4 separate regions of the Homo sapiens genome follow, and regions 1, 2 and 4 are each linked to region 3. The links come from fine-mapping of genetic effects on gene expression. A gene starts in region 3. Each other region holds a variant in brackets. All regions are shown on one strand. Distances are from middle to middle. Region 1 overlaps CPZ (carboxypeptidase Z). Region 2 has its middle 66 kb from the start of TRMT44. Region 3 holds the start of GPR78 (G protein-coupled receptor 78). Region 4 has its middle 24 kb from the start of GPR78.

What was found. PIP is the estimated chance that this variant, and not a neighbour inherited with it, causes the effect.
Region 1: its variant is the best candidate, but not a certain one, in a credible set for the expression of GPR78 in nasal epithelium (TOPMed, PIP 0.67).
Region 2: its variant is the best candidate, but not a certain one, in a credible set for the expression of GPR78 in lung (TOPMed, PIP 0.66).
Region 4: its variant is the best candidate, but not a certain one, in a credible set for the expression of GPR78 in esophagus mucosa (GTEx, PIP 0.68).

Annotation. Positions count from the first base shown.
Region 1 is chr4:8,600,899-8,606,042 of GRCh38, forward strand. It overlaps CPZ (carboxypeptidase Z), which reads left to right. Exons shown (of 11, transcript NM_001014447.3): 3 at 225-599; 4 at 3,078-3,290; 5 at 5,091-5,144. It overlaps LOC124900659 (a long non-coding RNA gene), which reads right to left. Exons shown (of 3, transcript XR_007058014.1): 3 at 4,829-5,144. Among named protein-coding and RNA genes, the nearest start is that of CPZ, 11 kb to the left of the region's middle. The variant G/C (reference allele first, on the strand shown) is at 2,858.
Region 2 is chr4:8,504,567-8,509,710 of GRCh38, forward strand. It overlaps a transcript of TRMT44 not described here. Among named protein-coding and RNA genes, the nearest start is that of TRMT44, 66 kb to the left of the region's middle. RefSeq lists an enhancer at 1-503. The variant C/G (reference allele first, on the strand shown) is at 2,286.
Region 3 is chr4:8,578,236-8,583,351 of GRCh38, forward strand. GPR78 (G protein-coupled receptor 78) reads left to right here and starts at 2,157. Exons shown (of 3, transcript NM_080819.5): 1 at 2,157-3,415; 2 at 4,296-4,409. The coding sequence starts at 2,748. RefSeq lists an enhancer at 2,317-2,978.
Region 4 is chr4:8,554,048-8,559,191 of GRCh38, forward strand. No RefSeq gene overlaps it. Among named protein-coding and RNA genes, the nearest start is that of GPR78, 24 kb to the right of the region's middle. The variant C/T (reference allele first, on the strand shown) is at 2,492.

The DNA of each region.
Region 1 (5,144 bases), 23 kb after region 3:
CTTGCTGGTGGGTAGTTGAATCTGGTTGGTCTTAGGCTCCTCCTCTGGTCTCTCACAGGCTCTGATTCCTGCACAGTAGCTGTTGTCCTGGTCCTCCCCTGCCAGACCGTGGGTGCCCCTCCCTGCAGGCCCTGGCCCTGCGTGGGGTCCCCTACGTAAATGTCTGATGCGTGACGGTCAGGGCCACTGCAGGAGGGACTGACCTGCCGACCCTGCCTCCCCAGCCACCTGCGTGGACCTGCAGCTCAGGACCTGCAGCGATGCCGCCTACAACCACACCACCTTCCCCAACCTGCTTCAGCACCGGTCGTGGGAGGTGGTGGAGGCCAGCTCCGAGTACATCCTGCTGAGCGTTCTACACCAGCTCCTGGAAGGCCAGTGCAACCCGGACCTGCGGCTGCTGGGCTGTGCTGTGCTGGCCCCCCGGTGTGAGGGCGGCTGGGTGCGCAGACCCTGCCGGCACATCTGCGAGGGCCTGCGGGAGGTCTGCCAGCCCGCCTTCGACGCCATTGACATGGCCTGGCCCTACTTCCTTGACTGCCACCGCTACTTCACGAGAGAGGACGAGGGCTGCTATGACCCGCTGGAGAAGCTTCGGGGTAAGGGAAAGTGGCGGGGGCCTGTGTGGTCATGGGGTCCAGGTGGTCAAGGAGGACCAAGAGCCACACTGGAAGGAACTTGAGGGCTTTTCCATCGACAGTGACGGTGCAGGCATTGGTAGAGGGCGGGGCTGCTCCCCGAGGCAGCATGTTCCCCACAAAAGGGTGCCAGGCAGGGTCGGGGGCTCAGTGCAGATGGAGGATCCTCTCGCTGCCCAGGGCCCCCTAGCAGAAGTCTCCAGCCCCTTAGAGGCAGGCTGGGGTGGAAGGGTGCTGAGTCCAAGTGGGGGCAGTGCCCCCGCCCAGGGTGCAGTGAGCAGGCCTCGTGTGGGGGAGCCTGGGCTCAGAGTGCAGGGCTGGCCCTGGGGGTCCAGTCCTCAGCCACAGACCCTCCAGAACCATAGTGCTTACCCCTGGTCAAGGGGGGGCGGGGCATTTACATCCCCCGGGAGGTCTGGCGGGCAAAGCTTCACGATTGCTCATCGCTGGGCCTGGAAGATCACACAGAGGGTTTGGCTTGGAGTGACTCCTCCAAGCAGGGTCTGCACCGCCCTGTGGGCTCAAGGAGGGAGAGGAGCTGTGGAGAAATGCTTTGATGTCTCTTGCAGATGAAACAGTGGAGGGGGAGTGGGCAAGACTGGGCCACCATGGGCCACTTGTCTCTGAGGTGTGCAAAGAGGTGCCAGAGGGCCACTTGGCAGCGGGGCTGGTTGGGGGCCCTGCATGGAGTCCCCTGTGTCTGTTGTCTCACGAGTCGGTGTCCACCAGAGACCCTGCATGATCCGCAGCAGTCCTGGCCCGTTAGACCTTTCTGTGTAAAAGAAATGTTCTATTGTGTTCTGTCCAAGACAGTTACCACTGGCCGCATGTGGCCCCCAAGGCTTGGGATGTGGCTCTTGCCACTGAGGCCTGGATGTGGGCGTTTCATCGCATTTGAATGAGTCTGAACCTGTCTTTGAAGAGCCTAGGGCCAGTGTGTGCCACATTCAACTGTGCAGGGCAGTGTCCGCTCATGGTTGGGTTCAGAGGATCTGACTGCGGGTGCCACACATGTGCTAGCTCACGCGAGTCTCACGACAGCCTTGCTCCATGGAAGAGGAAGTGGAGCCTCGGGAAGGGTGACAGCAGTGGGGTCTTTAGCTGGAGTGGCCCAAGCCCATTGCGGATGGAGGGATGGATTTGGCCATTTGTCAAACAGCTACCGAGCACCCACTGTACATGTGGCTTTGTGCTGGGACATTGAGGAGGGCAGGAGAAGGAAGGCAGACAAACACCCGGGCCGGGCTCCAGCAAGCCCTGGGTTCCGGGCTATGTCAGGTGCTCAGGGCTGAACCTGGCATGTCTTGCAGCCTCTGGCTCCCAATCTGAGAAGGGTGGACCCTGGGCTCCCATGCGATGCAGCGGTAGGGGGGGTGCCCTTTGCCAGCAGGTGGGAGCCGTCTGTCTGCAGAGCTCAGTCCCTGTAGAGGTGGTGGAGCTGCCTGTGGGAGGCCAGGGAGGCGAGGAAGGAAGCCAAGCCCACAGCCCTGGGAAAGCCCAAGGAGTCGGTTGGAGATTATTTTGGGCATCTCTACCACCAAATTGCCGGCTTCCTCTGCTAGTCTTTCCCCTGGAGAACCGTTTTGAGCAGAAGCAAAACCACAGGGCAAGGAGAAGCTTAGAGGAGCACATTAACTCTCTGTGGACCCAGGAACAGCCTGCGGGCACCTGCGTCCTGCTCCTGTGGGCCTGACTGCTGCAAAGCCCCTGGCGGGGTGGAGGGAGCTAAGCGTCATCGGGGTGGCCCTCAGGGCACCTCTGTTCTAGTGGATGACAGGATGGTGGGGAAGCTGGTGCGTATGTGGTGTAGAGACGTTCGTATTCTAGTTCCAGAACCCCTCCCTCTTCCCCAGCCCCCTTTTTTCTTCCTCCCCCAAGTACTTCCCAGAGCCCCCCTTTCTGTTTCCTTCCTGGACAGGCACTCACTGTTGTACCGATGAGGTTGTAACAGAAACACTGGGAAGCCTCACAGCAGCCGGAGGGGGCACCACAAGGAGCCTTCCTGTTTCCACCATTAGCCAAGCAAATGAAGCAGAATACTGAACTGCCTGAGTGCCACTGTCATGGAAAACACGCCCAGGAAAATCCCCTCTGCACACCCAGCAGGGGTTTGCCTTGGGGGGTCCAGGACCCCATATATCTGTCTTCCTTTCTGTTGTCCTGCTCCGTATTTTAGGAGCTTCCCACAGTGGCCCCATAGTATGTTTACTCACAGTCAC[G/C]TTAGGAACCATGGCGCTGTGCTGTGTACATACCTCAGGTGCCGTTTGGCTTAGATATCGTTGTAGGCACTGCAGAGGGAACTCTAATTAAAGATAGAGATGTCCAAGCATGGCTGTCGTGCAGAGGGGACTAAGGGTGCTGTGTGTGGTCAGCGTTCCCAGGCAGTGGTAGGAAGCCTGGGGGCCTGACACTGACTGAGCCCCCCCACTGCTCCCCCAGGAGGCCTGGAGGCTGACGAGGCACTGCCCTCAGGGCTGCCGCCCACCTTCATCCGCTTCAGCCACCACTCCTACGCCCAGATGGTGCGTGTGCTGAGGCGGACGGCCTCCCGCTGCGCCCACGTGGCCAGGACCTACAGCATCGGGCGCAGCTTCGACGGCAGGGAGCTGCTGGTCATCGAGTTCTCCAGCCGCCCCGGCCAGCACGAGCTGAGTGAGTGCCCTTGGGAGAGCCTGGCCTGGCCCCGTTTCGGGAAAGGGCTTGGGCCGCTCCACCTTCGGGTGCACAAGTTGGTGGGGTGTTTGGGGTCCTGGGCAGAGCTGGGGGCCTCAGGGAGCTGCTTGGTGCAGGCCACGTCCCGCTGGGCATGTGCAACCACTATATGTATAAAGAAGAATTTCTCCAGATATCCATCTTACTTCAAAATGTAGGGTGGCAGACTAGGTTATTTCATAATAATGGAGACATTGATCTAGTGGCTGAAAAGATATAAAACAAACAAGAAATTTTATTTTATTTTTTTGAGACAGAGTTTTGCTCTTGTTGCCCAGGCTGGAGTGCAGTGGCACGATCTCGGCTCACTGCAACCTCTGCCTCCTGGGTTCAAGCAATTCTCCTGCCTCAGCCTCCCGAGTAGCCGGGACTCCAGGCATGGGCCACCACACCAGGCCAATTTTTGTATTTTTAGTAGAGACAGGGGTTTCACCATGTTGGCCAGGCTAGTCTCGAACTCCTGACCTCAAGTGATCCGCCCAGCTCGGCCTCCCCACTCAAACAGAATCGGTTATTTTAGAAGCAGCCTCCATTTGACCCTTGGTCATCACCAGTTACTGAAAAATGCACCTGCTCTTTGTTTATGGACTCAGGGCCTTTTCAGTGCTGGCAGCCTCAGCCAGTCTTCATCCTACTGGTCTGGGCAGCATGAACACCATGAGCCCAAAGGCTCTATCTCTTACCAGGGGCCAGAGGCCACCTGGCCACACCCTGGCCCCCAAGGCTCACTATGTTCCCTCTCCAACTGTAACATGCTCTGGGCAGGAGGCAGAGGCTCTCCCTACAGCACTGGAATTTGAGGGCAAGAGGTGCCCCTGTGCAGAAGGCCAAGGGAGGTAACCAGCGCAGAAAGCTCCCAGGTCATTTATACCCCGGGATGTGGCATCTGAGGAACACGGGTGTTTCCTCTCATCCCTGGCTGTCCCTGGGCCACACACAGCTGGGGAGGGAGACATCATTTTCCAGGGGAGCAAGTGCGAGGCTTAGAGAGGAGGAGTGACTTGCCTGCAGTCACACAGCCAGTAAGGCCATGGGGCCTGGTCCACTCTTCTTCCTATAGTCCATTCATTTATTCATCCATCCATCCATCCATCCATCCATTTATTCATTCAGCCATTACACATCCATCCATCATCCACCCATTCATTCATACATCCATGCATCCATCCACTCATCATCCATCCATTTATTTACACACCCATCCATCATCCGTCCATCCATTCATGCATCAATTTATCCATTATTTCATCCAGCCATTATTCACTCATCCATCCATCATTGATTTATCCATCTATCCATTCATCCATCATTGATATATCTATCCATCCAGCCATCCAGCCAGCCATTATTCATCCATCCATCCATCCATCCATCCATCATTGATATATCCATTCATCCACTCAAGGGCCAACCACCTTCCCAGCTAAGTACCAATGTGCACTTTGACTTATTACACAAACATGAAGAGAGACCATCAGTTAAATTTGCATGAATCAATGATAACATATATTATTCATATTCTTGAGTTATGCTAACTAAGAATTCTGGCTAGGCATAAAAAACGAGCTTAACAAAAGTGATGACCTTGATGAGACCTCATTATATACAGAGGTTCTTGAGTCAAAACAAGTATGAATTGGTCCCAGCCCATCTGGTCATTCTTGCTGAGTGGGGGGGCCTCATGCCTTTGGGGACCCCCGGCTTTGAGATGATGCCCCAAGTCTCTGTATTTGCCCCCAGTGGAGCCCGAGGTGAAGCTCATCGGCAACATTCATGGCAACGAGGTGGCGGGCC
Region 2 (5,144 bases), 74 kb before region 3:
CCTGCCAATCCTTGGGTGTGGACCTGCGCCAAGTCTGTATCCACCTTCAATAGCTCATCTCTTCCACCCGGGAGGAAGTTCCCTTCATCCTCCCTGTGGGGAAGAGGGCACTGAAGCTTGGCAGAGCTCTTCCTGGGGTCTCAAGGGTCTGCTCCAAACCCTTGCTCTTGCCCCTGTCACAACCCAGGCACCCTGGCTGCACCTGCAAACTGCACTCCATGGTGGCAGCCCTGCCCTGCCAGTGCCAGCCCCGTCTGCCTCACCACCCCAGTCCCTGAGCTCCCTGGGGCTGAACGCCACTTCTCTGGATTCTAAATAGGCCCCCGCAGGGTACCTGTTGCTGTATCTACCACTTCCCCCAGCCTCCTGGTCTGGGTCCTGCTGATTCTGGTCATTACTCACCTTCTGCTCTACCCACCCTCCCCTGCATGCTGCCCCCAGCCGCAGAGGAATGCCCCCTCCATGTCCCACTCCCTCCACCAACAACAGCTGATCTGTCCTTTCTCCTGGCTGCGTGACCTCTCAGGAAGAGGCGGTGCTACACTGAGGGCCCTGGCAGCCTCTCTAGGTCCCTGTCCCTCACCTTTCAAAGGAGAGATAGGACAGAGGTGGCAGAAACTGGCTGGAGCAGGCTTCTGTCCGGGTGCTGCTCCGGCTGTGACTCCTCACCCCTCAGAGCTGCATCTTCCATCTGCGAACAGGAGGCTGCAGCCCCTGAGGAGGTGGCATCTCTGCCTGTGGGAAGTCAGGTGCACTGAGGCCAGATGCAGGGAGGGTGCTCCAGGCTCAAGGGTGCAGGAGGAGCCTCCTGCCCTGGGAGGCCAGCACTCAGCCCCAGCTCTGCCACCTTGACCTCCCAGCACCTCTGCAGCCCGGGCATCCTAGTCTGCAAGACGTGGTAGGGTGGATGGAGATCCCCAGGGTTCCTCCGTGGCCCTGGACAGGCAGCCGGTGTGGGGGGCATGAGTCACGCCCTGTGGGGGAAGGGGAGCAGCAAATGTGCCTGCCCTCCGCTGCACTAGCTGCACTGTTTCATGCCCATGCAACCCTAAGAGATGGGAGTCCTCACTGTCACCCTCTCATTCAGATGAGGAAGCAGAGACAGAGAGGCTGAGACACTTGCTCAAGGCCACTGATATGGTTGGGCTCTGTGTCCCCACCCAAATGTCATCTTGAATTGTAATCTGCAGGTGTTGAGGGAAGAACCTGGTGGGAGGTGATTGGATCACAGGGGCGGTTTCCCCCATGCTGTTCTGGTGATAGTGAGGGAGTTCTCATGAGGTTTGATGGTTTTGTAAGGGGCTCTTCCTCCTTCTTGCACTTCTGTCTCCTGCCACCATGTGAGATGTGCCTGCTTCCCCTTCCACCATGATTGTAAGTTTCCTGAGGACTCCCCAACCATGTGGAACTGTGAGTCAAGTAAACATCTTTGCTTTATAAATTATCCAGCCTTGGGTATTTCTTCACAGCAGTGTGAAAATGGACGAATACACACAGCAAATCACAGCACCATAGTTGGGGACGAGGGCTGTGTGGCCCTGAGTATGTGCTCCTGATGAGGACATGGGACACCAGCTAGAGAAGGGGCACTCCCTGCTCTCATGGGGACATTCACAAGGAGACCTGGTGCTCAGTGCAATGTCTGGGGACCTCCTTGAGACCAGGGCACGTGGGTGTCACAAGCTGCTGAGGGGCTGTGCCCTGCTGACACTGCTGAGGGCGCTTGGAGTGCAGAAATATTTTCAACAGAAGTGGAGCAGAAGGGATTTCTCCTAAACCCTCTGTTACCCAGAAAACGGCATGGACTGGAATTCCGCATTTCTTTAACAGTCTGTTTAGCCAGATCCTGACTCCACCAAAAACAAAGAAGCCCTCAGCCGCCTGCTGGGGTGGGAGGTAGTGACTGTCCTTCCAGCCCGGGCACCACTCCATGCTCATTGCTGATTTGGCCTCACTTAACCTTTGGTGCTGGGCTCTGCCGCATTCCAGGGTCCCTGTGTGACCTGGGCAGCCCCTTCCCCCCTCAGCCTGGGGTCCTCTCGGGCTGGGAGGTGATGGCTCTGCCCCAGGGGGAGCGGGCCAAGTGCTACGTGTGCACTTCTCTGTGGAATTCTCACCTCCTGGGCCAGCCCCTGGGCGGAAGGAGGCTGCTGGCCCCGCGTGGCCTGCCCTGTTGGAGGCTCCGCCAGAGCCCACGTCTGCAGTGCTTGGAGCCATTTCTTGGCACAAATATAAAAACAACTCCAGCTCTGCCGTGCTCCAAGTGAGAAATGCTGCTTGGTGAG[C/G]TGGGCTGGCTGGGCTGCTGGCCCTCGGTCAGCCGCCTGCAACAGGCAGGGCCACGGGAACCTCATCAGCAGAGCTTCCTGGAGGCAGCGTGGGTGGAATTGTGGAATTGTCATCAGACAGGCCTGGGATGGAGCTTCCCCACTGGAACGCAGCTGGCTGTGGACAGGGAGTCAGCTGCTGCCTGAAGGGACAAGGAGGCCTGCGACCACAGCAGGTTCCCACCTGGCCTGGGCCTGGAGGCCAGCAGGCACCTTTCAGGGCTTCCCAGCTCAGCCCCCACAGCTGGATGGAGCTGTGTTCCCTGCAGAAGTGTGGCCGGCTCCGAGCAGGCACAGGGGGCTCTTTCCCTCCACCTCAGCCCTGGCCTATGTGGGCACAGCAGAGGACGTGCTCACACCATGGGGGCCCCCGACCAGGCGAGGCCAGGGCGTGTCCACATTGGGGAAGTGAACGAAGAAGGACAAGTCTATTTGAGGGGCTGGCTGATAGTTTAGAAGCCCAGAATCGCCTGGCAGTGAATTATTCTGCTGAGTAACACTGTACCCAGAGGGATGTGGCTGAAAACCCCGGGAGGGAAGGCTGCGTGCGGGAAGCACTCCCATCCTCCCCCAGCGCCTGCTCTGGGCGTTCCGGAGCTCAGCGTGCATCCTTGCCTGTGGGTTCTGGGACCATCCTGCCATCTCCCTCCCCTTTCTTTCCCCTTTCCCCTCCTTTCCTTTCTCCTCTTTCTCCTTCTTTCTGTTTTCTTCTTTCCTGGCTGAAGCCAGAATTCATTTCTGTTACTTGCATCCAAAAAGTGTTCAAACAAGCATGCTTGCTGGGATCCTGGGTCCTGCCCCTGGTCACCTGGAGGCAGGGCTGTCGCTCCATGTACAGACAGGAGTCCAGGAAAAACTTGAGGAGACACAGCGTGTTCCGGCCCCCGCTCCTTCACCCCTGCCCCGTCCCCCAGTGACAGATCCGGCAGCAGGCAGAGCCTTGAGCCCAGAAAGCCCAGGCCCCCTGGGAAGCTTAGGTGTGGCCTCACATCTGGCAGTTTTTGCTTTGATTTGTTTTGTTTTGTTTTGTTTTGAAATGGAGTTTCGCTTTTGTTGCCCAGGCTGGAGCGTGACGGTGCAATCTTGGCTCACTGCAACCTCCAGCTCCCAGGTTCAAGTGATTCTCCTGCCTCAGCCTCCCGAGTAGCTGAGATTACAGGTGCCCACCACCATGCCCAGCTAATTTTTGTATTTGTAGTAGAGATGGGGTTTCACCATGTTGGCCAGACTGGTCTCGAACTCCTGACCTCAGGTGATCTGCCTGCCTCGGCCTCCCAGAGTGCTGGGATTACAGGCATGAGACACTATACCTGGCCTCACATCTGGCAAGTTTTACAGCTCAGGTTTCTGTGTGGGGTCCTGAGGCAGCCCCTGGGCAATTTCGTATGGCTGTGGGAGGGTGAGGAGGGACTTTCAGGACGTGACCTTGTTATTAGCAGGGGCTGCGGCTGGAGGTTGGCCTGCCGGGCCCTGAGGGTGGGTCTGGGTGCCATGGGTTGTGTCTGTTGTGTGGGTTATTGGTTGGGCCTGGGGAGCCCATGGGAGTCTCCAAGCCCCCTCCCCAAGTGACCCCCAGCCAGGCCTGGCCACCTCGTCCCCTCTGCTGGGCTGCGGAGTTGAACCTGATGTCTGCTCAGAGTCACCTCTGAGTGGTGCAGACATTCGGAAGTGTCCGTGGGACTGGATGGAAGGGACCCCATCCTCAGCCTTCATGGCCGGGGTCTGGCTGACCGACTGTGGCCATGGGGTTGCGGCGCCTTGGGCGGCAGATCCCCCATGAGTGTGAGGTGCTGGCTTCTGCACCTCCCATGAGCCCACAGACACACAAACACAACCCCGTGTTTGCTGATACATCCCAAGGCTTTGGTCTGTTGGGTTTGGGGTGAGACCCTTCCCTTCCTTTACAGATGCTCACCTGTGAAGAGGGAGAACGTCGCTGTCCGAGCAAATGTCTCTTCTGTGTCCTTGGCTGCCTTCCTCCTCCTCCTCCCGCCGCCTACTTTGGGGCCCCTTCCTCTTCTCAGCAGTGCCACTGACCAGCCCAGCCTCATGCACCATCCCGGCCGTTGCCCTGGAGGGCTGGCAGCTGGCAGGACTCAGAGAGGGCCCAGCCATCACCCCTCTCTTGAGCAGATGACAGAGTAACACTGGGAGTTACTATGGACACTGGAAAAGAGAACACAGATGCGTCGGAGATTTTGTAGTTGCAACTCTTCTCTGGTAACCAAAAAACATCAGGACATTCATTGCAAGTGCAACGCTGAGGCTTTGAAGGAACCAAAGAGATCCTTTGCAGCCCTGAGGACGGAGGGAGGGAGGGAAAAGGGAGTGGGGTGGGAGGGAGGGAGGGAGTCCACTGCAGAAAGTGGCACTGATCCCTCTGAGCCTCTCCGGCCTCATGTGTAAGATGCCAGCTGCCCCGGAGTGGCAGTGGCGAGTGAGTGGCTGTGTAAGGTGCCCAGGCAGGAGCTTGCGGGCAGCCCTGTGTGAAGTGGGCAGCCTTGGGCCGGGTTCCCTAGAAGCAGAGCTGAGATGGGGATTCTTGTTCATGCGATTGGAGGTGCTTCCTAAGAAGTTGCTCCCTGCCCCAACTCCGAGCCAGGGCAGCACTGACCATGGGCAACTTTCCCTTGCAGGGGGCACTCCCAGCTGCCGGGGAGGGGCAGTGGCCCTGAAGGGGCCTGGTCAGGACCAACAGTTTTCTTGGCAGTGGTGTGTTTGTCCCCATTTCGCAGATGAGGAAACTGAGGCTTGGAAAGACCCAGGTCCTTGCCCAGGCCCCACACCACACCCAGGAGGGGCGGCGCTGGAGTCCTGCGC
Region 3 (5,116 bases):
AGATGTAGGTAGACTTGGAGGGGCTGCTAAGGAATTTCATAGGCAATGGGGAACCATGAACTATCACTAGGCAGGGGAGGAGCCTTCGGGAACTAATCCTGAACTTTATCATTGCAATGCGTATCTCAGCAAGAATGGGCAGGATTGCATAGTTAGGAGTACTGCCTTACTTTTTAAAGAAGTGGTGAAAATATTTAATATTTTCATATACTTTTTCTTTTTGGAAGATAAAAGGATTAGGTCCAGCATTTCACCCTACAGAGGATTTAAATTTTTCATCAGGAATGAGATTTGAGTGTAAGAAGATGAAACGATATTATACTGATAAGACCACAGGGTTCAAAACCACCCCCTACAACCCAGGGAAGGGGGGCAGCCAGGCTGGCAAGATCTGAGGCCAGAAGCACTGGGGCTTTGGGGAGAGCAGCAAACAGAACAGATCTAGACCTATCAAGGTGCCCTCACCAGAGTCCAGAGATCTCACCACACACATTTTCTCATTCATGCAGTTGTCCAGTACATCCTTGCAGATGAGCAAATGGCCTGCCTTTCATAATACAGGCTGGTGGAGCTTCCCCATGCTCATGTCTCAGAAGAGATGCTCTCTGCTCCCCTGCAAGTGGAATTGTCTCCCTTTGGAGTAGTTGAGAGGTGACAGAGGCTGCTGTGAGTGGCTAGACCAAAGTCTCCCTGTGAAGCCACGTGATGACTCCACCGCTCCCCAGAGCTGCACATGGTCGCTCAGAAGCCTTGGAGGGGTTGGGGGAGGCCCCTGCTCTCAAGCCCCCACTATCACAATCACTTTGTCCCAGCTATTCACCTGCAAACTTGCTTGATCTGCAGAAGCTGCAGAGTGGCCCACTCTTCCTGGACATGTCAGGAAAACTTTGACGTGGCTGCTCTAGCTTCAGGGAAGGTCTAATTTGGTGAAAATTTGAAAGCAGGTTTGTGGGAGTGCCAGGGAGAAATGGGGAGAGAGAAAGCCTCTGTATTTGATGGATGGCAATGGCTTGGAGCTGGTGTGATGGCCTCTCTGGATGACAAGGACATTGGACTTAGAGCCAGAAGGACTGAGGTATGAATCTCGGCATTCCTGGTTTGTAGTTATGGGGACTTGGCAGAGACACTTGAATGAAACTTCCTTTGCCCAGGTATAAGACGGACCCCCTAATAAAGGTTGACTGTGTTCTGATCCTTCACTGCCTGCTGGGATGTCCTCAGCATTTTGTGCATGTTGGCCAATTTAACCCTAACAGCAACCACCAGAGGCAGATGCTATTGCTGGCTATTAATATCCCCATGTGACAGATGAGAATGTGAGGCCCAAGGGGTTTAAGTGGGGCTATGAATATCCCCATGTGACAGATGAGAATGTGAGGCCCAAGGCACAGAACCAGGGGTGCCCCAGCATGCCAGTTGTGCACCTGTGGCTTTTCCCTTGGCCACTTTGCAGCACCGGCACGAGAGAGGCCCACAGGGTGAGCCTCCACACCACCAGCCACCCTTTGTCCCTCAGAAAGGGCTGGCAGAGCCTGCAGGTGAGGGTGGGTGTGGGGAGGGGTGGGCAATCGTCTGCCCTTCATTTCTGTCATGTTGTGGCTGTCACTGGGGAGAAAATGCCAAAAAGCTTCCTGGAAGAAGCAGCTTCCAGGAGGCTTCACCATATCCTTGTCCTGCCAAGTGGCCACGAATGGATTAGAAGATTCCCACTGGGTGAGAAGGCTCAGAAGCCACCACAGAGGATGGCGGAGGTGGGAGAGGCCTCGCACCGCGGGGCTCCAGGAGCCAGGTGAAGGACAGGCATTTCTGTATGGCACCCAGTTCTGGGTGGGTCCTCCCAAGGTGCCCCCTTCTTTGTCTCTCCCTCTGTTGCTTTTCTCTCCTCTTCCCTCTTCTTCCCCCCACTTCCTCTTCACTTTTTCTTCACTTTTTCTTCTTCTTCTCTTTCCTTCCCCCATGCCTTTCTCAACCTTGTTTCCACTTCTTGTCGCTCTTCTTGCTTCAACAAACGTCGATGCAGTCACAGTTCCTGGGCTGAGGCTGGGGGATGGGAGGAAGTCCTGAGGGCAGCCCCCGCCCCCTTCCCCGCCCCGTCACTCCCTCTGCCCCGCCTGCACAGCTTCTTGCCAATTCATTCCCGCCCCTACCGCCCCTATAAGCCACCAGGTCGCTCCAGTTTGGTGCCAGCGCCTGGAGGGAGAGGCGTGGCGAGGGCTGTGCTGCCTAGGATCCACTGAGTGGCTCTTGCTGGCGTGTCAGCTGCGCGCGAACCAGGGCTGGGAGGCTCGGCTGGAGGTGTGACCAGGGCAGGGACTGACCTGGCCCGGAACAGAAGCGCGCAGAGTCCCATCCTGCCACGCCACGAGGAGAGAAGAAGGAAAGATACAGTGTTAGGAAAGAGACCTCCCTCGCCCCTACGCCCCGCGCCCCTGCGCCTCGCTTCAGCCTCAGGACAGTCCTGCCGGGACGGTGAGCGCATTCAGCACCCTGGACAGCACCGCGGTTGCGCTGCCTCCAGGGCGGCCCCGGGCTGCTCCTGCTCCGCAGAGCTACGCCCTCCCCCCGGGTGCCCCGGACCCTGCACTTGCCGCCGCTTTCCTCGCGCTGCTCTGGACCTTGCTAGCCGGCTCTGCACCTCCCAGAAGCCGTGGGCGCGCCGCTCAGCTGCTCCATCGCCTCACTTTCCCAGGCTCGCGCCCGAAGCAGAGCCATGAGAACCCCAGGGTGCCTGGCGAGCCGCTAGCGCCATGGGCCCCGGCGAGGCGCTGCTGGCGGGTCTCCTGGTGATGGTACTGGCCGTGGCGCTGCTATCCAACGCACTGGTGCTGCTTTGTTGCGCCTACAGCGCTGAGCTCCGCACTCGAGCCTCAGGCGTCCTCCTGGTGAATCTGTCTCTGGGCCACCTGCTGCTGGCGGCGCTGGACATGCCCTTCACGCTGCTCGGTGTGATGCGCGGGCGGACACCGTCGGCGCCCGGCGCATGCCAAGTCATTGGCTTCCTGGACACCTTCCTGGCGTCCAACGCGGCGCTGAGCGTGGCGGCGCTGAGCGCAGACCAGTGGCTGGCAGTGGGCTTCCCACTGCGCTACGCCGGACGCCTGCGACCGCGCTATGCCGGCCTGCTGCTGGGCTGTGCCTGGGGACAGTCGCTGGCCTTCTCAGGCGCTGCACTTGGCTGCTCGTGGCTTGGCTACAGCAGCGCCTTCGCGTCCTGTTCGCTGCGCCTGCCGCCCGAGCCTGAGCGTCCGCGCTTCGCAGCCTTCACCGCCACGCTCCATGCCGTGGGCTTCGTGCTGCCGCTGGCGGTGCTCTGCCTCACCTCGCTCCAGGTGCACCGGGTGGCACGCAGACACTGCCAGCGCATGGACACCGTCACCATGAAGGCGCTCGCGCTGCTCGCCGACCTGCACCCCAGGTATTGGCCCAGTGCATGCCGACAGGCCCAGGCCAGGGACTTGGGCGCTCCCTGGGCAGTTGGCTTGAGGAGCCTGTGGGCATCACCACCGTTACTCCGCCCAGAGTTCACCAGCCACAGCACTGCCCCTGCACGCTGCTCACAGGGGTTTCCTGTTGGTTCATTGGTGCAGACACTGCGGGGGCCTCTGCCTCCTGGGATATGTGCTCAGTGCACAGGGAGCTTTGCGCAGAGCTGTGGGGTGTGCTTCTCCGGGAGGGGTTCCGCGGGCTCTGCTGTGGGCGGCCAGACACACCCCTCCTGTGCATGGCTGTGGGTCTGAGGCATCTGCTTGTTTCTGCCCACTGCTGACCCAGTGCCCTTGCATGGACTTGGGCTTCAAGTCTTGAGCAGGGTCCATCCCCCATGCTTTCTGCTCACTACTTGGCAGGATTTGTCTCCTGAATCTCTAGCTGGTGTCGCCATTGTTCCAAATTACCTCCTGTAGGTGTTCCCCTTTCCCCCTTGGCCCCCCACAGAACACCCAAGAGGCTCTCCTGCTCCTGGGGTGGGCAGGCCACGTGACTTCTCCCTCCTTGAGGGCCCCAGCCTTGCCCCTCCATCAGCAGCCTGCCTCAGTTGCCTCTGTGTGGAGAAGGATGAGCCAGAGGGAAGGGAGGAGGAGCTGGCCCTTCTTTCCAGACTTCCTTTATTTCACCTACAAAAAAGCAAGCCTACCCCTTGTTCTTTCTCTCTCCCCCATCCCTCTGTCCTCCTCAGGTTCCAGGCTAAACATCCTCCTGAAACCCTCCTGTCTGCCCTCACTTCAGCCCCTGGGCTCTGGGCCTGGGTTCTGTCCCCACCCTGCCATCATCCTGACCACTGTCCTCTGTCCCCACAGTGTGCGGCAGCGCTGCCTCATCCAGCAGAAGCGGCGCCGCCACCGCGCCACCAGGAAGATTGGCATTGCTATTGCGACCTTCCTCATCTGCTTTGCCCCGTATGTCATGACCAGGTGGGTCCTGGCAGTCCGGCTCCTGTTGTGGGAACAGCTGGGTGGGCTTGGCCTCAGTTGAGTAGGCCTCTGAGGTTTCCCAGCAAGATATCTGGAGGGCGGCCACCACCAGAGGACCCTCCTCCACACCTGACGGGCTCAGGGCTGTGCTTCAGCTCCTGGGAAAGATCCTGGGAGGGAGGTGGCACTGGCTCCCATCCTGTCCTATAAATGAGGAGACTCTCCTTGTCCAGGCACAGGCAGATATGGGGTCTGTGAATCAGCACCTGGCTCTTTAAACCTAGAAAGCTTTCAAAATCAGGCAACCTGGGACTAACTCAGGCCTCAGACTCCGCATCTCCTGGGCGTGGAGTTGGGAATCTGGGTGGAAGCTCCAGCTGGAGCCTCGGGGCAGTAACACTGCCAGGTGAGTGTTCTCTTTGCTTCTCTCTTTCCTGGAGACCTTGGCCTGAGTGCTTGTCAGGTCAGAATTACCTGGAGTCACAGGTAATTTGGGAAAGAGTGTGTGTAAAGGGCCTGCTGGTACCATCATCACAGTGCTGTGCTGAGGGGCAGGGGAGTCTGTAGTTTTTGCCTCCGGGGTTCCTGGGTCACCCACTCGGCCACTTGGTTACTACCTTAGCTCCACTCAAGGAAATGTGTGCACCCTGCCTTGCTGGAAGGCACCGTGGTTAGAGGGAGGCAGGTTGTTTATTAGAGATGGTGAC
Region 4 (5,144 bases), 24 kb before region 3:
GTGAGCCACTGGGCCCGGCTGGCAGTTCTGACTAGTTCTGCAAATAATGACCAGAGGACTAAAAGCCTGGGCAAGTGCTCAAAGTACCATTAGGAGGGCAATGCGCAGGACGCCACCTGGCAGGGAGCGAGGGCTGCAAGAGTGAGCCATGACTGTGGCGGGAGGAATTCCGAGATGGCCCCAAGATCACGCCCCTAGTGTACCGCCCAATATAATCCCCTTGGGGGATGTGGGCCTGCTGTGAATCTGCTGGGATTTGGCAGCTGTGATTAGGTTATCTCCTGGTACTGTGGACCTTAAGAACGGGGGATTATCCTGGGTGGGCCTGGCTAGTCATCGGAGCCTTCAAACCGACGGGGCTCCTCCAGGAGGGAGGGATTTTACAGGAGAGACCGTTCTTGCTGCTCTGAAAATGGGGCTCCACCTGGCAGGGACCTGGGCAGGAATTCTAGCTGCCGAGAACAAGCCCTGCCAACAACCCTGGGAAACCAAATTCCACCAAACCTGAGAGCTTGGAGGAGGCCCCTGCGTTTCAGATAAGATCACAACCCAGCGGACACCATCACTGCAGCCTCGTGAGATGCTGAGCAGAGGACCTAGCTGAGCCCTGCCCGGATTTTGCCCTGCAGAAATGAATATGTGGATGTGGGGTGGGTGAGGTTGATCATTCCTTACACTGCATAGGAAACTAACACCTAAGTAAAAGGGGTACCTGTGACTCCCTCCTCTGGCCTTCCACGTCCTCCGTGGTGCCCCGGCATCCCTTGCTCTCTGGTGCTATCTGCTTTTGTGCGAGGCCTTCCCCTGCTCCTTGTGCGCATCCATAAAGCCCCACGCATCCTGCGAGGCTGTGTTCGACCAGGCTTGGAGGAGCCTTCCCCGACCCCAGCGACCCCCAGGGTGCTGCCGATTCCTGGGCCAGCCTCACTCCAGCACAGGCTCTGCCTCCACGGTGTGTGTTGAATGAATGGATTTTTAACTACAGTTGACCCTTGAACAACATGGATTTGAACAGCGTGGGTCCACTTATACATGGATTTTCACCCACTTCTGCCACCCCTGAGCCGGCAAGATCAGCCCTCTTCCTCTTCCTCCTCAGCCTGCTCATGGTGACGATAATGAGGACGAAGACCTTCATGATGGCCCGATTCCACAGTGAATACATCTCTTCTTCCTTATGATTTTCTTAATGTTTTCGCTAAAGCTAGATGGTCAGATTCTTCCTTCATTGTTAGAATACAGTAAATATTTGTGTTCAGGGACTGTTGATGTTATTGGTAAGGCTTCTGGCCTGCAGTAGGCTCTTAGTTAAGTTTTGGGGGTGTCAGTCGAGCATGGTGGCTCACACCTGTAATCCCAGCACTTTGGGAGGCAAAGGCAGACAGATCACCTAAGGTCAGGAGTTCAAGACCAGCCTGACTAACATGGCAAAACCCCGTCTCTACTAAAAATACAAAAATTAGCTGGGCGTGGTGGTGCACACCAGTACTCCCAGCTACTTGGGAGGCTGAGGGAGGAGAATCACTTGAACCTGGGAGGCTGAGGTTGCAGTGAGCCGAGATTGGGCCACTGCACTCCAACCTGGGCAACAAAGTAAGACTCTGTCTCAAAACAAAAACAAAAACAAACAACAACAACAACAAAAAAAAAACCACAGACACACACAAAGTTTTGGGGGAGTCAAAAGTCATACACAGATTTTTGGCTGCCCAGGAGTTTGGTGCCCCTAACCCCACATTATTCAAGGGCCACCTGTAATTCCTAAGGATTGCTCTGGTGCTTGGAGGCCCTGGGTTCCCCCGGGGCAGGCCTGCACCCAGGACGGAAGCTGCTGGGAGTGGCCACCTGTGACTGCCTCCCTCGTATCCAGTGTCTCTTGGCAAGGGGAGGCTGGCGGGGCCTGCCATGGGCACTCCAGCCCTGTCACCAGCCTGCAGAGGAAACCATTTCAAGCTGTTCTTCAAGACTGAAAATACCTAAGAGGGCTGATGTGTATTTTTCCACGAGTTCTCTGGGGGTAACTATACAGAAAATTGTTTTGAAAATAGCATTTTTATTTTAAAACATGGCATAGGGATGTCATTAGGAAGCAAGGCATTAGGGATATCATAAAGAAGGGATATCAAAGAAGTAAAAAGAAATATACAGAAAATTAGAGGAAAAAGAGATCGATGGAGGCCCGTGACCAGAGAGATGGACGCTGGTCTTTTGATGAACATGATTTCAAGGTCTTCTCTGGGCACATGAAGGTTACCCCCTTCCACACACACACCCCTCCACACCCCAAGCCCTCCCGTGCACACTCAGATGTGGACACATAGTGAGATCATATGATGTGCCATGTATGATCTCCTGTGTTATTTTTTAAATCAACTCCATAAGCCTAGGCAGATTCCTGTGCCCATGAATGTGGAACTGGCTCGCGGATCTCACAGCTCCTGGTGTTTCCTTGGCAGGGAATCCACTCTCCAGGTGTGTGTTATATAAACAC[C/T]GCCGTCCTCTATGCATCCAAAGCATTGGACTCCTATGCTAGGCTCCTCGGTGTTAAATTCCTGGACAAACAGCTGTCAGACTTTACAGGCACTCAGTAAATGATTGCGGAATGGATTTAAAATTGTGCATAAGGATAAGCCTGTTTTTAGTATCAATGCCCAGACTGCCCCTCCCTGCCAGCAGGGCAAGCGAAAAACCTGTGTCCATTTTCCCCATCACCATCGGGAGGCAATTTTACCAACCTCATGGTGAAGAGCTCTGTCTCTTCTTTCCCTATCTTTAAGGACTAGGACATTGAGACCACTTTTTTTTTTTTTTTTGAGATAGTTTTACTTTTGTCACCAGGCTGGAATGCAGTGGCGCAATCTCATCTCACTGCAACCTCTGCCTCCTGGGTTCAAGCTATTCTCCTGCCTCAGCCTCCCGAGGAGCTGGTATTACAGGCATGCGCCACCATGCCCGGCTAATTCTGTATTTTTAGTAGAGAAGGGGTTTCACCATGGTAGTCAGGCTGGTCTCAAACTCCTGACCTCATGTGATCCACCCGCCTTGGCCTCCCAAAGTGCTGGGATTATAGACGTGAGCCACCCCGCCTGTCCGGGACCACCTTTCACACAGTTTTGCTATGGTCCATCTGTATACAGTATTTACGTTTTTTTGTTTTTGGTGAATTTCCTGTTCATTTACTTTGTCAGTTTTCTGTTGGGCATTTTTTTCCTCTTATAAAAACAAACAAACAAACCCGGAGAGTACTTCTTGTGTGACTGGTCCCGAGGCCTGGAGGTGAGGAGGGGCCTGAGCATTTTGTGCAGAAAGTCCGAGGGCAGTGTGACCTGAGCATCCAACTAGGGGACCCTCGTGGCTCCTCACTGTGGTGGGAGGCCCCGCCAGCGGGTCCTGTGAACAAGCGGAAAGTGGGTTCTGGGAGGGAATTTTTAGTGAAAAGAAGAAGGTACTCAGAGTGCCAACCCTTCATGGCATGTGGAAAGAGAGGTTACTTACCCCAGAGCCAACATGATCACAAGGCAGCCAAAATGGGCGGGGGCCATTGGCAGCCTCAGTTTTCTCATCTGTGAAGTGGGTGCTGTGAGCCTCCTTCCCTGCCACATCCGGGCTCGGGCCCTTGGCGTCCTCTCCTCGGGACAAGTGGGGCAGCCCTTCCCCAGCTCTGGGACACCTGTGCCCCTCCCACACACCCTCCGCTCAGCACAGGACCCTTTAAAGCATCTGCCCCCGCTGACCCGCTGCTTTGGGAATCCAGCTCCAACAAGAGGCTTCGAGCTGCCCCCAGCCCACCACAGCAGTGTTTGGCACCCCTGCCGCTCCCTCTGCCACGGTCACTCCTCCAGCCTGCTCCCAGCTCCCACCCTGGCCCACAGCTCTCGGCACAGGCCCCAACCATTGAGAGCTCACCCCAGTGCTCAAGGTTGGGCTGGGGGCCTCCCATCTGCCCCTCCTGATCCCTCACCTCCCTGTGCCCGGGTCTGTCTGTCTGTCCACCCCAGAGGCCACCCCTCCTTGATCATTGCTGTGACCCAGCACCTGCCTGAGGACCCTGGGAGCTGGTTCAGGTGTGCTTGGGGGGCGGTGGGGGGGCACTGATTAGGCAGGGCATGTTTGGTGCCACCTACCTGTTAGCTCGCCCACCCTGTCCCCAGGACTGGCTTCCTGGCTTGGCACAGAATTTGGCTGGCTTTCCCACTGAGAGGCGGCAGTGATGAAGAATGGGCCAGGGACAGTGCTGGGACTCGTGGAAGGGCAGTGAGGGTCAGCTGGGCTCTCTGCTTCCCGGCCTTCCAGGAAGTCACGGGTCGCCTTCTCTACCTTAGCCTCAGTTGTGCCCCAAGGAAGGGGGTGAAGTTTCCCATTGTTCCACGTTTCCAGGGTGGGAGTTGGGATCTGGGGGCAGTGGAGAGGCGGGGTGCCATGCTGGGGAGGTGTTGTTAGAATGGCCATGGTGGCATGCTGTACACTCTTGCCCTCCCCCAGCCCCACCCAGGCCTGCCTTGTTCCTGACTCACCCAGGCTTGTCCGGGAAGCCCGGCCAGAGCCACCATGCAGAATTCAATCATCCTGAGTGTGGAGCCAGGCCCAGCCCTCACTGGCCACAGCTCGGCCCCCATTTCCCTGGCCAGCACCGAGCCGCAGGGGAGGGTGAGAATCTTTGGCATCTTGGCATACGTTTGTTGTTCCAGAGTCGGGCTGTGCCGAGGGAATGTGCTGCTTCCCCCATTTTGCAGACAGGGACACTGAGGCTCAGTGAGGGTGAGGGCTCACCCAGGTTGCAGAGCCTGCCCAAAGCTGGGTCTTCTGGCTCCAAGTCGGGAGCACGCTGCACACCTCATGCCATGGATCAGGCCTTGAAGCTCTCCGTGAAGGTGTACATTGTGCCCCTCATTGACCGGCAGAGAGCCAGGCCTCAGGGACGAGATCCTGGACAGGTGAGTTTGGGTGGGAAGAGAGGAAAGAGAAACTGATGTAGTTTAGGGAGATCTCTGGTGGCGTGGATGGCAGGGCCCCTGGAAATGCTGGTTCAGCCTCAGCAGGAAGGGGTGCCGACCGACCACAGGATCACCCAAATTAGAGACCCGCAATCTGTCTCTCCCAGGCTGTAGCTTCCCGCAGCAGGGCTGTGGGCGAGGCAGTCACCA